Regions from separate parts of the Homo sapiens genome. Here regions 2 and 3 are each linked to region 1. Evidence: fine-mapped expression QTL. A gene starts in region 1. Each other region holds a variant in brackets. All regions are shown on one strand. Distances are from middle to middle.

What was found. PIP is the estimated chance that this variant, and not a neighbour inherited with it, causes the effect.
Region 2: its variant is the best candidate, but not a certain one, in a credible set for the expression of ECM1 in sun-exposed skin (GTEx, PIP 0.82).
Region 3: its variant is the best candidate, but not a certain one, in a credible set for the expression of ECM1 in visceral fat (GTEx, PIP 0.80).

Annotation. Positions count from the first base shown.
Region 1 is chr1:150,505,741-150,511,108 of GRCh38, reverse strand. ECM1 (extracellular matrix protein 1) reads right to left here and starts at 3,000. Exons shown (of 10, transcript NM_004425.4): 1 at 2,830-3,000; 2 at 1,528-1,578; 3 at 1,347-1,448; 4 at 1,107-1,187; 5 at 927-1,007; 6 at 1-233. The coding sequence starts at 2,899. It overlaps TARS2 (threonyl-tRNA synthetase 2, mitochondrial), which reads right to left. Exons shown (of 18, transcript NM_025150.5): 18 at 3,507-4,193. The coding sequence ends at 4,045. RefSeq lists an enhancer at 1-615.
Region 2 is chr1:150,448,072-150,453,439 of GRCh38, reverse strand. The region is part of intron 7 of RPRD2 (regulation of nuclear pre-mRNA domain containing 2); the gene reads right to left. Among named protein-coding and RNA genes, the nearest start is that of TARS2, 37 kb to the left of the region's middle. The variant C/T (reference allele first, on the strand shown) is at 2,339.
Region 3 is chr1:150,539,260-150,544,627 of GRCh38, reverse strand. No RefSeq gene overlaps it. Among named protein-coding and RNA genes, the nearest start is that of ADAMTSL4, 7.5 kb to the left of the region's middle. RefSeq lists enhancers at 321-821, 822-1,322. The variant G/A (reference allele first, on the strand shown) is at 2,357.

The DNA.
Region 1 (5,368 bases):
CTGGCGAGTGAGGTGGGAGTAGCTGGACTGTGGTAGGTTCCAGGGACCATATACCACATGCTGACGGTTAGGAAGGCAGATTTGGTTCAGATTGTCTGGAGAAGGCCGCCCAGGGGGGAAGCCATCCAGCCGGTGGCCCCAGCCCCCTTGGGACCGGTCCTGTTGGCAGTGCTGGGCTGCATTCCAGGACTCAGGTTCTGGATGGCTCTGGTCCCCAAATGGAGCTGGCGTTCCTGGAATGGGGAAAACAGTGGGAAGCGGGGACATGTGAAGGAACCCACAAAGGCTGGATGAGCTGGGAGGATTGAAAGAATCTGGGGTGGAGGAGAAAGGGTTGGGAGGATATAGTGGAAATGAGAAAGAACAATTTGTGGCTCTTCCTTTTAAAATAACTGAAAGGAAAAGAGAAGCGAGGTGTGAAAGGTGTCAGCTCACAGCCTGCCCCCACCTCCTCCTGCTTCTCAAGGCTCGGGCTTCCTGCTCCTCTCCCCAGGGTCCTGAGCACTAAGGCAGGAGGATGGACAGACCAAAGCTGTCACTCACCCTCTCTCGGCATGGAATGGATGATTATCTCCTCCTGATATGGAAGAGGTGGGTCTACTGGGTAGAAGGAGTAAGCAAAAGCCATGTTGGGATGGCCATCTCTAGCAGAGAAAGCCTGGCTAGTTTACATGCACAAAGAAGAACTCAGCAGAGAAGCAAGTGAAAATAGATGCTATTTTTGCACATCTAATCACATAACTTTCTAAAACAGGTATATCCTCAATTTTACAGATGAAGAAACAAAGGCTTGGAGAAGTATGTAACTTACCCAAGGTTATACAACTGGTGAGTGGCAGAGCCCACCGTCTTGTCTGCCCCGAAGCCCATGCTCTGGGGGAAGGCCATGAGGTAAAGGTGGGTAAAGAAGAGAGGGAGCTGCTTACCTTCCTTCTGTTCATTGGGGTGCTGGAGAGAGGGCAGCTCTTTTTGGAGGGGGACAGCTTCCTGAGGGAGAGGGGGACCCACTGCAAGATAGGGGTGAGGGCACCAAGGAGCAGGGATCAGCCTGGTGTCAACAGGATCCATAGTGGGATAGAGGTGAGGGAGGGTGGGCAAGCGCTCACCTTCCTTTTCAGCAGGGAGTTGGGCAGGTAGCAGCTTTTCCTGTTGGAGAGGGGTGGCCTCCTGAGAGGGAGGGGGCTGCACTATAGAAGGGGGAATGTGTGAGCAGCCCACCCTTTCTCCTAGCCAGGGCTGGGAGTGGGGGCGAGGGCCTCTTCCCTCCTTTCCACCTGAAAAGTGGGATATAGGCCAGATTAGAAACCTGGAGGGTCACTGAGGAGGGCATGGGATGGTGACCTTACCTTGACTCTGTCCCTCAAAGGGAGGGCCATGCTGAGAGGAGTCAGGGTGATCCATGGGGAGGCTTCGGGATAGGGGTGGGGAGGGGGGAGCTGCGTAGCCAACTAGAAGCAAGAGGGGAGACATCAGAGCCCACAGTGCCTCCTGGAGTCCCAATCCCATGCTGCTCCCCCAAACTCTTACCTTCTTGAAAGTGCTCTGGCCTCAGCTGCCTCTGTCCTGTAGCCGTGAAGCCTGGAGGGAAGAAGGGCAAGTCAGGGGCCACTGGGAGGGCCTTCCCTGGACTTCAGCAAGGGATGGGGAGGCTGTGGAGATCAAGAGTGTAGGACAGACAAGCAAGACACGAGATGCCCCTCTGTATTCACCTGCCCCGTGTCCCCTAATCCTCTCCCAGCCCCAACACACCTAGACATGACCAGCTGGGTTCTGAGAAAGCCTGTGGCGGTCTGATAGCTCCACCTCTACTGGCTCAGAGGTTGGGCCTAAAGGGAGTATGGCATACGGGATTGGGGAGGGAGGCCCTCATTTCCTCTGCCAGTCTTTCCCTCAGGGCTGTGGGTTGTCCTCCCCAGTCTCTGCTGGGATGCGTCTCTAGCTTTCAGAGGAAAAAGTCTGGACCTTGAGCTGGTTGGAGCCTACCCAATCCACCTCCTCCACCCACCCTCCTACTCCAGGCCCTTGAAACATCTTTAGGCCTTTGGTTAAGGAGGCTTCCTGAAGGTTGAGTGCTTCCCCTTCAGCCAGTCTCAGCTCCGCCTTAGTTTAGGTCTCAATTTAGGGCCTGGGGGACTGGGACAGGCACAGGGAAGGGTCACTTGTAGGTGATCTGCAGACACAAAAGACCAGGAGCTGGGAAGAATGATGGCATGGGGCTTCACAGAGAAGTGGACAGATTTGCTGACATCCTCAGCAGCTTCCTGCAGGAGTGCCCTGGGTGGTTTTTTTCCTTTTCTTTTCCTTTTTTTCTTAGTTTCCACCCATAGCATTGAGGGGTTCCTGTTTTGTTCAGGCATCAAAGCAGATAAAGAATGTGTTTGTGCTGGATGGAGGGTGGGTCTGTGGATGGACACCCCTCAACTCCTCTAATCAGACAGGGAGTCAGTCGAGGCTTGCTGGGCCAGCAATCCGGTTTTGAGCAGCCTGGGGGCCCCTTTTCCCTCCCTTGCCTCTCCCACCAGCCACCTCCCTACATCCTCATCAGCAGGAGACCCTCACTCTGTGAACCCACCCCCCACTCAGTTGTCTATTTGACTGGGATTCTGTGTTTCTTGGCAGCAGTTTCTAGGAACCCCTCTCCTTCTGTGCCCCTGCTCTCTGCCTCCTTGGTTAAAGGCTCCACTGGCCTAGGCCCACTTTGGGCCTGCTCAGAAAAGGAAAGCCAAACGGAGAATCACTCTGCTAGTGATGAGCCGTCTGGGATGCCTGGACCCAGACCCCTGCCATGCAAGCCCAGACCCCCTCCTAAGTGCTGATCCCCCAACTCACCTCCCTCAGAGGCAGCAGAAGCAACAGCCAAATAGGTCAAGACCAAGGCTGCTCTGGCTGTGGTCCCCATCCTGGGGCAACTGACCACTGGACACTCAGAGGTGGGTCCTCTCAGGCAAGTCTGGATGTGAAGGGCCGGCCACTGAAGCTTGTCTGGTGGCTGTTACGGTTGTGAGCTTCAGGACCAGCTCTTCTTTTATAATTGTCTGGTGTGATCTCCCGCCCTCCTCAGCTTCCTGCCATGACTCAGTCCCAGCTGCTCCTCCTCTGGAAGCCACTCCTCCCAAAGTCACCCTGAAGCCTCCTCAGAGGATTGAGAAGAATGGGACTGATTAGAGGAGAACATTCTTATGACCTTCAAGAGAAACTGATTCAGAGAATCCAGGAGCAAGAGGTGTTTGAGCCCCTAGTTTGTGCCTCAGTTTCTCCATCTACAGGCTGCCTTCTGTGGAGAGGGGATCTGCCAACTCATGAACTGGGGTTGGGGAAACAGGGCACAAAGGAGTTTACAGCGGGGAGCAGGAAACCTATCCAAGGGATCTCCCCTACCAGTGTGAGGTCTGGACTGTCCCTTTTCAATTTCCCTAACTCTCTGGGACAAAAAAGAGGGAGACAAAGTGGAACATCCTTTTATCCCACCTCTCCAGAGTCAGAGATGAAGACATATGACCAGCAGCTTCCAGTTTGTATTTATTTATTTATTTATTTATTTAGAGACAGAGTCTCGCTCTGTCGCCTAGGGGGGTGCAGTGGCGCAATCTCAGCTCACTGCAACCTCTACCTCCCGGGTTCAAGCGATTCTCCTGCCTCAGCCTCCTGAGTAGCTGGGATTACAGGCGTGTGCCACCATGCCCGGCTAATTTTTTGTATTTTTAGTAGAGACAGGGTTTCACCGTGTTAGCCAGGGTGGTCTTGATCTCCTGACCTCATGATCCGTCCGCCTCAGCCTCCCAGAGTGCTGGGATTACAGGCATGAGCCACTGCGCCTGGCCCAATTTATTTTTTTTTGTAGTTTCATTCTCCTCACATCCAAACAGCTACAGCTTCCCTCCTTTTGTGGGGTCCCCAAACCAAGTCTCTTTTCAGGAGAGCAGACATGTGCCTCCACACAGTTCTGAAGTTCTGGGGGCTCCACATTGTCAGCTGGGTTGGGGTCTCCCATGTGAGGGAGGCTGATGGCACTCGCAGGTTTTTGCCTCATCTATGTACAAAGGCTCAGAAAATTTCTTCGGCATTTGGGACCCTCGTGTTCTGTAGCTCCACCAGTCGCTGCACAGCCTCAGGCAAGTCCCACTCCCCAAGGCGACGATTATCTCGAGTCCGAATGTTCACTGTTCTCTTACTTTGCTCTTTCTGGCCAACCACTGCAGGTAGAGGAAGTTTGGGAACCTCAGGGCAAATTCACCCACATGGAACAGTTTCTTTTGCTCTGCAGAAACTTGAGAGACCTAAATCTTTAGGAAGGGTGGGAGCAGAGCCCAGATATGGTTCACAGAAAGGAAGTATTCAGCTGTGTCTGCTAATACTAAATGACCAGTCCTGCTCATCCTGAGGAGACAAGGAAGTGCTTCAGTCCCCGCAGGCCTTATCGCTTCTGGTCAAGAGCCCCAGGGTCAGAGACATAAGAGTCAAGCAGAGAAAGACAAACACTGAGAACCCCACAGAGAGAAACTGTGTGTGTGTGTGTGTGTGTGTGTGTGTGTGTCAGAGACATTAGAGTCAAGCAGAGAAAGACAAACAATGAGAACCCCACAGAGAGAAACTGTGTGTGTGTGTGTGTGTGTGTGTGTGTGCGCGCGCGTGTCTGAAGGGGGTATTAGAGCAAGTGGAAGGTGGCAGGAGTGGTGTGGCCTTCACACTGCCCCGCCTCCCCCCAACCACTCTGACCCTTAGAACAGTTTCCTCTCATCAGTCCCACTCTGGCTCTTGGTGTCTGTTAGGGCTGGATTCACAGAGTGAGGGGCCTCTGCTGAGGAGGATGTATGCAGGGGCTGACTGGGCGGTAAGGGAGGGAAAGGGGCCATGTACAAGTCCCTGGGATTGCAGCACAGCTTGCTCTGGGTGCTTGTAGGGAGAGTGGGGTGTGCAAAACTCAAGAATCAGGTAATCTGGCTGAGGAGTTTCTGCTCCTCACCTTTGAGATAGAGCCCTGAACCCTGGAAAATGAAAAAGGGAGCATGGCAGTGCCAGAATTTTCTCCCTAAGGCCTTTCTCCTCATCCCTTAGGGCTGATTCCATCTAGGTCTAAAATAAACAAGGGTAATTAACGCTGTATTAACCCTCCCGTCCCTTTCTCTCTGATGCTCCCTTGGTTAATTAACCTAACAGACACCAACAGCTAGAGTGGAGTTAAAAAGAGGAAAACTATTTTGAGTGTCAGAAGTGGTTATGGGGAGGGCAGGGCAATGTGAAGGAACACAGGGCCCAAATGAGTCAGGTGTCCTGAATCCTGGCTCCTACCTGCTCAGGTAATGAGCCCCAATTAACCCAAATATGCATTACCAGACTTGGTAAACTTAACAGCAAGAATGCAGACGGC
Region 2 (5,368 bases), 58 kb after region 1:
GCAAAGGATGTTGGAGTCTAAGCAGGATAAAAAGAAAACCCATAAAGGTGGTTGGAGAGAGATGGAAGTGCTGGGAGACTGGCCACAACTGATTAAGTAAAAACACTGAGGCCAGGCGCGGTGGCTCACGCCTGTAATCCCAGCACTTTGGGAGGCCAAGGAGCACAGATCATGAGGTCAGGAGTTCAAGACCAGCTTGACCAATATGGTGAAACCTCGTCTCTACTAAAAATACAAAAATTAGCTGGGCGTGGTGGTGTGCGCCTGTAGTACCAGCTACTCAGGAGGCTGAGGCAGGAGAATCGCTTGAACCCGGGAGACAGAGGTTGCAGTGAACCAAGATTGTGCCACCGCGCTCCAGCCTGGGCAACAGCACGAGGCTCCGTCTCCAAAAAAAAAAAAAAAGTAAATATATTGAAGACAAGGGAGCAAGGTTTTACACTGTTAGAAAAGTAATTAGTAGTGTAAAAAAGTGGTGCCAGTGGCTCACGCCTGTAATCTCAGCACTTTGGGAGGCAGAGGCAGGCGGATCACCTGAGGTCAGGAGTTTGAGACCAGCCTGGCCAACATGGTGAAACCCCATCACTGTTAAAAATATAAAATTAGGCAGGCGTGGTGGCGAATGCCTGTAATCCCAGCTACTTGGGAGGCTGAGGTAGGAGAATTGCTTAAACCTGGGAGGCGGAGGTTGCAGTGAGCCGAGATCGTGCCACTGCACTCCAGCCTGAGCAACAAGAGTGGAAAGTTCGTCTCAAAAAAAAAAAAAAAAAAAAAAAAAGGGGATATGTCAAAAGAACACAGAAAGGAGCTCACATTGACCAAAACTTTGTCAAACTGAGCATCAAAGTAAATATTAGTAGTAATGAATTAAAACAGTGAGTAAATAGGATTCAAGTCCATTCATATAAATAAATGAATACATCGAAAGTCTGGTAAGGAACAAGATATTTACATAGTTTCAAAATACTTCCTCACAAAACATTCATTAATTGGTATATTAGTTTCTTAGGGCAGTGGTTAATTAAGTACTACAAAATGAGTGGCTTAAAACAACAGAAATTTATTGTCTCTGAAGGCTAGTGGTCCAAAATTAAGATGTCAGCAGGCTGTGCTCTCTCTGACACTGGGCAGAATTCTTCCTTGCCATTTCCTGGTTTCTGGTGGTGCCCATCAATCCTTGATGTTTTTGGCTTGTAGCTGCATGGCTTCAATATCTGCCTATGCTGTCACATGATGTTCTCCCTGTGCTTTTGTCCAGTTTCTCAGTTTCTCTCTCTCTCTTTTTTTTTTTTTTTTTTGAGACAGAGTCTTGCTCTCTTGCCCAGGCTGGAGTGCAATGGTGTGATCTCGGCTCACTGCAACCTCTGCCTCCTGGGTTCAGGCGATTCTCCTGCCTCAGCCTCCCAAGTAGCTGGGATTACAGGCACCCGCCACCATGCCTGGCTAATTTTTCCTATTTTTAGTATAGACGGGGTTTCACCATATTGGCCAGGCTGGTCTTGAACTCCTGACCTCAAGGGATCTGCCTGCCTCAGCCTCCCAAAGTGCTGGGATTACAGGTGTGAGCCATTGCACCCAGCCAGTTTCCCTCTTCTTATATGGACACCAGTTATATCGGATGATTAAGGCCCACCCCAGTGAACTCATTTTAACTTGATTATATCAGCAAAGACCCTATTTCCAAATAAGGTCACATTCACATGTACTGAAGGTTAGGGCTTCAACACATCTTTTTGGGGTGGACGATTTTTTTTTTTTTTTTTTTGAGACGGAGTCTTGCTCTGTCTCCCAGGCTGGAGTGCAGTGGCGCGATCTCGGCTCCCTGCAAGCTCCGCCTCCCAGGTTCACGCCATTCTCCTGCCTCAGCCTCCCAAGTAGCTGGGACTACAGGTGCCTGCCACTGCGCCCGGCTAATTTTTTGTATTTTTTAGTGGAGACGGGGTTTCACGATGTTAGCCAGGATGGTCTCGATCTCCTGCCCTCGTGATCCACCTGCCTCGGCCTCCCAAAGTGCTGGGATTACAGGCTTGAGCCACTGCGCCCGGCCTGGGGTGCATAATTTAACCCATAACAATCACCAAGGGAAAACTTTATAATGGACAAGCCTGGAAGATGCCACATTAATCAGAATATCAAGGGGAACATTACAGGTAGTGAGATAAACCAAACTTGTGTGCCATCTGACAAGACGAAACATGAAGAACACAGAATCACTTCTGTGATATTCCTTCTAAAGATGCATAACCTCAACCTGATCACAAAGAAATATCAAATAAACTCAAACTGGGAAACATTATACAAAATATTTGACTTGTAATCTTCAAACATATTTAGGTCA[C/T]GAAAATCAAGGAGAAAGCTAAGAAACTGTTCCAGATCAAAGGAGAATAAAGAGAGATGACAACCGAATGCAACTTGTGATTCTGGATAGGATCTTTTCCTATAAAAACTGGCCAATATGAATCGGTTCTGAGGATTAGATTATAAGTGTGTCAAAGTATCAATTAATTTCCTGATTATATAACTACACCTGGAGGGGCACGGTGGCTCACGCCTGTAATCCCAGCACCTTAAGAGGCCGAGGCAGGTGGATCACCTGAGGTCAGGAGTTTGAGACCAGTCTGGCCAATATGGCGAAACCCCATCTCTACTAAAAATACAAAAAGTGGTGGTGGGCGCCTGTAGTTCCACCTATTCGGGAGGCTGAGGCAGAAGAATCGCTTGAACCCAGGAGGCGGGGGTTGCAGTGAGCCGAGATTGCGCCACTGCACTCTAGCCTGGGTGACACAGTGAGACTCGTCTCTAAATAAATAACTTTTTTTTTTTTTTTTTTTTTTGAGACGGAGTCTTGCTCTGTCGCCCAGGCTGGAGTGCAGTGGCGCGATCTCGGCTCACTGCAAGCTCCGCCTCCTGGGTTCACGTCATTCTCCTGCCTCAGCCTGCGGAGTAGTGGGACTACAGGCTCCCGCCACCACGCCCACCTAATTTTTTTTAATTTTTAGTAGAGACGGGGTTTCACCGTGTTAGCCAGGATGGTCTTGATCTCCTGACCTCGTGATCCACCCACCTCGGCCTCCTAAAGTGCTGGGATTACAGGCGTGAGCCACCGCACCCGGCTAAATAAATAAATACATACATACACCTGATGGTTATGTAGAAGAGTATGTCCAGTAGGAAATACACACTAAAACATTTTGGATAATGGGGTACAAGCAACTTATTTTCAAATAATTCAGGAAAAAAAGGTCTTCATACTGGACTTAAGATCTTTCATAATGGTGAGATTTAAAAAGATGAATAAATTTTACCAGAAAATTGAACTCTTTCTTTAAAAAAATTCAGTGGCAATTCTAGAACTGAAAAGTAAACCAACTAAGAACAGATGGGTTTGGTTTAATCATAGATAAGATTCAACAGAATAAAGTATTAATGAATTACAAGACTAGTTAGTAGAATATCTAGAAGGAAGCAGAGAAGAGAAATAAAAGATGGAAAATTCAGAAAGGACTATAAAAAAAGGCATTTGGAACACAACAATGAGATCCAATATACATACTAATGTGAGTTCCAAGAGGAGAGGAGGGAGATGAAACAGTAACAATAATTGAGATCAATAGCTGAGAATTTTTGAAAATTTATAAAAAACACGAAGCCATTTGTTATGGGTGAATTATCTATCTCTGCACCCCCTGACTCATATGTTGAAGTCCTCACTCCTAGTACCCCAGAATTATTTGAAGACAGGATTTCTACAGAGGTAATCAAGTTAAGTGAGGTCATCAGGATGGGCCCTAATCTAATATGACTGGTATCCTTATAAAAAGGTGAAATCTGGGAGATGGAAGGAGGGAGAAAGAAGGAAGGAGGGAGAGGAAAGGAGGGAGGAAGAGGGATGGAGAAAGGAAGAGAGGAAGAGAGAGTACATGCAAGCAAAAACAGGAGACAAAATAGAAATCTAAAAATTATTTGATTAATTAAAAAAAGCAAAAAAGGAGTAACAAAGAAAAGGACACATAGGACAAATAGAAAGATGGTAGACTTAAACCCAAGCATATCAATAAGTAGACTAAACACTGCAAAGTCAAAGATTTTCAGACTAGATCAAAACATAACAATAAAACTAAAACAAGATCCAACTATATGCTCTTTGCAAAAGATATACTTAAATATAAAAACTCATGGGATGCAACTTAGAAGGAAATTTACTGTATTAAATGTATACATTTCCTAAAAGCTGAAAATCAACCTGCTTATCCATTAGCCAATTCGGGGTTGGGCAGGGGGAGAAAATCAATGATCTAAGACATTTTAATGTATTTTTCCTTTTCTTTCTTCTTTTAATGTATAGAAGGGTCTCACAATGTTGCCCAGGCTAATCTTGAACTCCTGGCCTCAAGTGATCCTCCTACCTCAGCCTCCCAAAGTGTTGGAATTACAGGCATGAGCCACTGTGCCCAGCCTAAGACATTTCTAAATATAAGGTCAGACAAAATTTCCCTCTCACAAACACTTTTTTTTTGGGAAATTACTTGAGACTGCTCCAGTACAATGATAGAAACCAAGAAAAAAAGACATGGAATCTGGAAAATAGAGGACTCAACTCAGGACAACAGTTAAGAGCTATTTTAGCCTAAGACTTAGGGAATAACCTAAACTGGGGACGGAAAATGAAAATTCAGGTAGGGAGGACCCAGGGGGAAAAGGGAATTCAGAATAGCTGGTGTGATGGAGAATTTAGAAAGGCTATGCAAGGGCAAACAATAAAAGAGAAAACAAAACTCTAGGAAAAAACAAAACTTCTAGTACAACTATAGTTACCACAAAACCTTGCAATGAACAATGTTTACAGAGTTATAATGTAAGCTTTTTGAAAAATTGTTTTTCAACCTTTAGAGTAGCAAAGAGTAATTAAGTATGATTATAGAACAGAATGTAAATATTACCAACTTTGACAATACAGAAGTAAATATAGTTGGCTGGGTGTGGTGGCTGATGCCTATGGTCCCATCACTTTGAGAGGCTGAGGTGGGTGGATCACTTGAGGCCAGGAGTTCAAGACGAGCCTGTCCAACATGGTGAAACCCTGTCTCTACTAAAAAACCAAAAATTAGCCAGGCATGATGGCATGCACCTGTAATCCCAGCTACTCGGGAGGCTGAGGCAGGAGAATCACTTGAACCTAGGAGGTGGAGGTTGCAGTGAGGCCAAGAGTGCGCCACTGCACTCCAGCCTGGGTGACAAAGCGAGACTCCATCTCAAAAAAAAGACAACAACAACAAAAAGTAAATATAGTTGATTGAAGCTGGAAAATTGAAGGGATAGATGAAAACTAATGGGAGCAAATAGGGATGCTACTAACCAAATTTTACGA
Region 3 (5,368 bases), 34 kb before region 1:
GACTCCATCTCAGAAAAAAGAAAAGTAGATGTTCATCCAAAATTATCTCTAAAGATTGGACAGATAAGGAAAAAAAGAGGGGACAGGCTGACATTGGTCTGACTTTGAGCTCAACATACTGATTTAATAATAATAATATAGCTAACATGTATATAGCACTTACTTTGTGCCCCCGACCGGGCTGTTAGAAGAGCTTTACACACATTACCTCACTCTGTCCTCATTGTAACCCTGTGAGGTGGAGACTGTTACACCATTTACAGATTTGCAAACAAAGACACAAAGACAAATCCACTAATTTGTCTCTAATCTCTCAGCTAGAAAGTGAGAGAGCCAGGATTCTAAATTAGGCGCTGTTATTTGTATACATTGTATGCAAATAAAATTTCCAGAAATTTAGCTGAATTTACTTAATAATTTTTTCCCCTGGCAGTAGCATAAGGAAGTTTTATAAATTAAATAACATTTTGAATGAATGCCTCATATAAGACGTTGTCCCTATTCCAAGATAATGCTGATGCTAATACCAATAATATGTACAGTTGGGGCCCAGAAATGAACATGCAGCTGTCTGTCTTTAGGTTTGTGGTCATAGCAACCATTTTCGGAAAGCCTGGTGTTTGCTTTTCTGCCTCTCCGAATCATGGTTGCTCAACTCCTTTGTTCCAAAACAGACACCCCATTCCCAATTGCTGCGCGCCAGGCTGGCTTCCAGCCGTTGAGTCCGTGTCCTGTCATGCTGTCTCCACTGTTTTGTCTCACTGATGCTGTTCTTCTGACCATTCCGCTTTGGCTTGACGCAGCCGCCCATACTAGGCAGCTGCTATGAGAGCAGCCAGTGGTGACCTGTGCTCTTCCAGGGACTGGAGGGTGAGACCACCTTGCTGTGTTTACCTTTGTATTCACCACCTCACTCTGCACACAGTAGGCATTTAATGAATGTGTGTGGGGTGAGCACTGCCTCAGCTCTGGCCACATTCCAGCATTTTCTGGTTGTTGTCCTGCCCCATCACGGCCCAACTGCCTTGCACCTGATGAAATGATGAAGAAACAGGATGTGATCCATTTGGTACGATGAGGACCAAGACATGAATGGGATATTCTGGTCTCCCAGTCACCGCTATGTAGACTTTATTTCTTTATTTATTTTCTTTTTTAAAAAAGATATACTCGGTCAGGCGCGGTGGCTCACGCCTGTAATTCCAGCACTTTGGGAGGCCAAGGCGGGTGGATCACGAGGTCAGGAGTTCAGGACCAGCCTGGCCAACATAGTGAAACCTCGTCTCTACTAAAAATACAAAAATTAGCTGGGCATGGTTGAGGGCATCTATAGTCCCAGCTACTCGGGAGGCTGAGGCAAGAGAATTGCTTGAACCTGGGAGGCGGAGGTTGCAGTGAGCCGAGATCACGCCACTATACTCCAGCCTGGGCAACAGAGCGAGACTCCATCTCAAAACAAAAAACAAAAACAACAAAAAAAGATATACTCCTATATTTTTTTCTTTTTTTTTTTTGAGATGGAGTCTCGCTCTGTCGCCCAGGTTGGAGTGCAATGGCAGGATCTCGGCTCACTGCAACCTCGCCTCCCAGGTTCAAGCAATTCTCCCGCCTCAGCCTCCCAAATATGTGCCACCACCAGCTAATTTTTGTATTTTTAGTAGAGACGGGGTTTCACCATGTTGGCCAGGCTAGTCTCGAACTCCTGGCCTCAGGTGATCCACCCGCGTCAGCCTCCCAAAGTGCTGGGATTACAGGCGTGAGCCACCGTGCCTGGCCAACTTCACAGGTTTTCATAAAACCCCAAATACAACTGATGGAATATGTATGAAAGCTGTGGAGTCATATACAAAACGAAGGCAGCACTATTGTTAATGATGCTGTGCAAAATTATTTTGTAGCTGATGTTCTAGGTAGATCAAGACTGCATTAAAGGAAGACTTCATGCTGCTCCTCTGTGATGCTCAGAGTTCTTTGCTGGGGATGCTCTCAGAGTCCAACAAGACTCTGGTCAGGATTTGCCAGTGACAGAGAGGACATAATGTCTTTTCACAGTAGGTTGACAATAATGGCTCAGCCTCTGTGTCAGGAATTGGGGGAAAAAATGATGCTGCCATCTGTACAGGACCTTTCTTTTCTTTCTTCTCTCCTCCCCTCTTTTCTCTTTCTTTCTTTTTTTCTTTCTTCTTTCTTTCTTTCTCTCCTTTTTCTTTCTTTTCCTTTTTTTTTTGAGACAGAGTTTCACTCTTGTTGCCCAAGCTGGGTGCAGTGGCGCAATCTCGGCTCACTACAACCTCTGCCTCCCAAGTTCAAGTGATTCTCCTCCCTCAGCCTCCTGAGTAGCTGGGATTACAGGCGT[G/A]CACCAACACGCCTGGCTAATTTTTTGTATTTTTAGTAGAAACGGGGTTTCACCATGTTAGCCAGGCTGGTGTCGAACTCCTGACCTCAGGTGATCCGCCCCCAAAGTGCTGGGATTATAGGCGTGAGCCACCGCGCCGGCCCTTTCTTTTCTTTCTTTCTGCTTTTTTTTTTTGAGACGGAGTTTTGCTCTTGTTGCCCAGGCTGGAATGCGATGGCATGATCTCAGCTCACTGCAACCTCTGCCTCCCTGATTCAAGCGATTATCCTGCCTCAGCCTCCCGAGTAGTTGGGATTACAGGCCTGCACCACTACGTCCAGCTAATTTTGTATTTTTCGTAGAGACAGGGTTTCTCCATGTTGGTCAGGCTGATCTTGATCTCTTGACTTTGTGATCCACCTGCCTCGGCCTCCCAAAGTGCTGGGATTACAGGTGTGAGCCACTGCACCTGGCTTTTTTTTTTTTTTTTTTTGAGATGGAGTCTCGCTGTGTTGTCAGGCTGGAGTGCAGTGGCGTGATCTCAGCTCACTGCAACCTCCGCCTCCTGGGTTCAAGCGATTTTCCTGCCTCAGCCTCCCGAGTAGCTGGGACTACAGGTGCACGCCACCATGCCCAGCTAATTTTTTTTGTATTTTTAGTAGAGACAGGGTTTCACCACGTTGGCCAGGATGGTCTCGATCTCTTGACCTCGTGATCCACTCGCCTTGGCCTCCCAAAATGCTGGGATTACAGTCATAAGCCACCACGCCTGGCCTTTTTTCTTCTTTTTTTTAGATGGAGTCTTGCTCCAGTCACTCAGGCTGGAGTGCAATGGTGTGATCTCAGGGCTCACTGCAACCTCCACCTCCTGGGTTCAAGCGATTCTCCTGCCTCAGCCTCCCAAGTAGCTGGAATTACAGGCACCCACCACCATGCCCGGCTAATTTTTGTATTTTTAGTAGAGACGGGGTTTCACCATGTTAGCCAGGCTGGTGTCGAACTCCTGACCTCAGGTGATCCGCCCCCAAAGTGCTGGGATTATAGGCGTGAGCCACCGTGCCGGCCCTTTCTTTTCTTTCTTTCTGTTTTTTTTTTGAGACGGAGTTTTGCTCTTGTTGCCCAGGCTGGAATGCGATGGCATGATCTCAGCTCACTGCAACCTCTGCCTCCCTGATTCAAGCGATTATCCTGCCTCAGCCTCCCGAGTAGTTGGGATTACAGGCCTGCACCACTATGTCCAGCTAATTTTGTATTTTTCGTAGAGACAGGGTTTCTCCATGTTGGTCAGGCTGATCTTGATCTCTTGACTTTGTGATCCACCTGCCTCGGCCTCCCAAAGTGCTGGGATTACAGGTGTGAGCCACTGCACCTGGCTTTTTTTTTTTTTTTTTTTTTTTGAGATGGAGTCTCGCTGTGTTGTCAGGCTGGAGTGCAGTGGCATGATCTCAGCTCACTGCAACCTCCGCCTCCTGGGTTCAAGCGATTTTCCTGCCTCAGCCTCCCGAGTAGCTGGGACTACAGGTACACGCCACCATGCCTAGCTAATTTTTTTTGTATTTTTAGTAGAGACAGGGTTTCACCATGTTGGCCAGGATGGTCTCGATCTCTTGACCTCGTGATCCACTCACCTTGGCCTCCCAAAATGCTGGGATTACAGTCATAAGCCACCACGCCTGGCCTTCTTTTTTCTTCTTTTTTTTAGATGGAGTCTTGCTCCAGTCACCCAGGCTGGAGTGCAATGGTGTGGTCTCAGGGCTCACTGCAACCTCCACCTCCTGGGTTCAAGCGATTCTCCTGCCTCAGCCTCCCAAGTAGCTGGAATGACAGGCACCCACCACCATGCCCAGCTAATTTTTGTATTTTTAGTAGAGACAGGGTTTCACCATGTTCGTCAGGCTGGCCTCGAACTCCTGACCTCAGGTGGTCTGCCCATTTCAGCCTCCCAAAGTGCTGGGATTACAGGCATGAGCCACCACGCCTGGCCCCTCTCTTATCTCTTTTCTTTTTCTTTCTCTCTCTCCTTCCTTCCTTCTATCTCTCTCTCTCTCTCTCTTCTTCCCTTTCTTGCTTTCTCTCTCTCTCTTTCACCCCCTTCTCCCTCTTTCTTTTCTTTTTTTTTTTTTTTTTTTGGAGTCTCGCTGTGTCACCCAGGCTGGAGTGCAATGGCGCGATCTCGGCTCACTTTAAGCTCCACCTCCCGGGTTCAAGTGATTTTCCTGCCTCAGCCTCCTGAGTCGCTCGGATTACAGGTGTGCACCACCATGCCCAGCTAATTTTTTGTATTTTTAGTAGAGATGGGGTTTCCCCATGTTGGCCAGGCTGGTCTCGAACTCCTGATCTCAGGTGATCCACCTGCCTGGGCCTCCCAAACTGCTAGGATTACAGGAGTGAGCCACCGTGCCGGGCCTTCGTGCCTGCCTGCCTGCCTGCCTGCCTTCCTTCCTTCCTTCCTCCCTCCCTCCCTTCTTTCTTTTCTTTCTCTCTCTCTCCCTCCCTCCACTTCCCTCCCTTCCTTCTTTCCTTCCTCTCTTTCTTTTCTTTTCTTTCTCTCTCTCTCTTTCTTCTTTCCTTCTTTCTTGATGGAGCCTTGCTCTGTCGCCCAGGCTGGAGTGCAGTGGTGCAGTCTCAGCTCACTGCAACCTCCACCTCCCAGGTTCAAGCCATTCTCCTGCCTCGTAGTAGCTGGGATTACAGGAGCCTGCCACCACATCCAGCTAATTTTTGTAGTTTTAGTAGAGACGGGGTTTCACCATTTTGGTCAGGCTAGTCTTGAACTCCTGACCTCAAGTGATCCACCCACCTCAGCCTCCCAAAGTGTTGGGATTACAGGCATGAGCCATCATGCCTGGCCCTTTCTTTCTTTCTTCTTTCTCATTTTTTTTTTTTTTTTTGAGACAGGATCTCACTCTGTTGCCCAGGCTGGAGTGCAGTGGTGTGATCATAGCTCACTGCAGCCTCAAACTCTGGGGCTCATGCAATCCTTCTGCCTCAGCTTTCTGAGTAGCTGGGACTATAAGGTGTGCACAACCACGT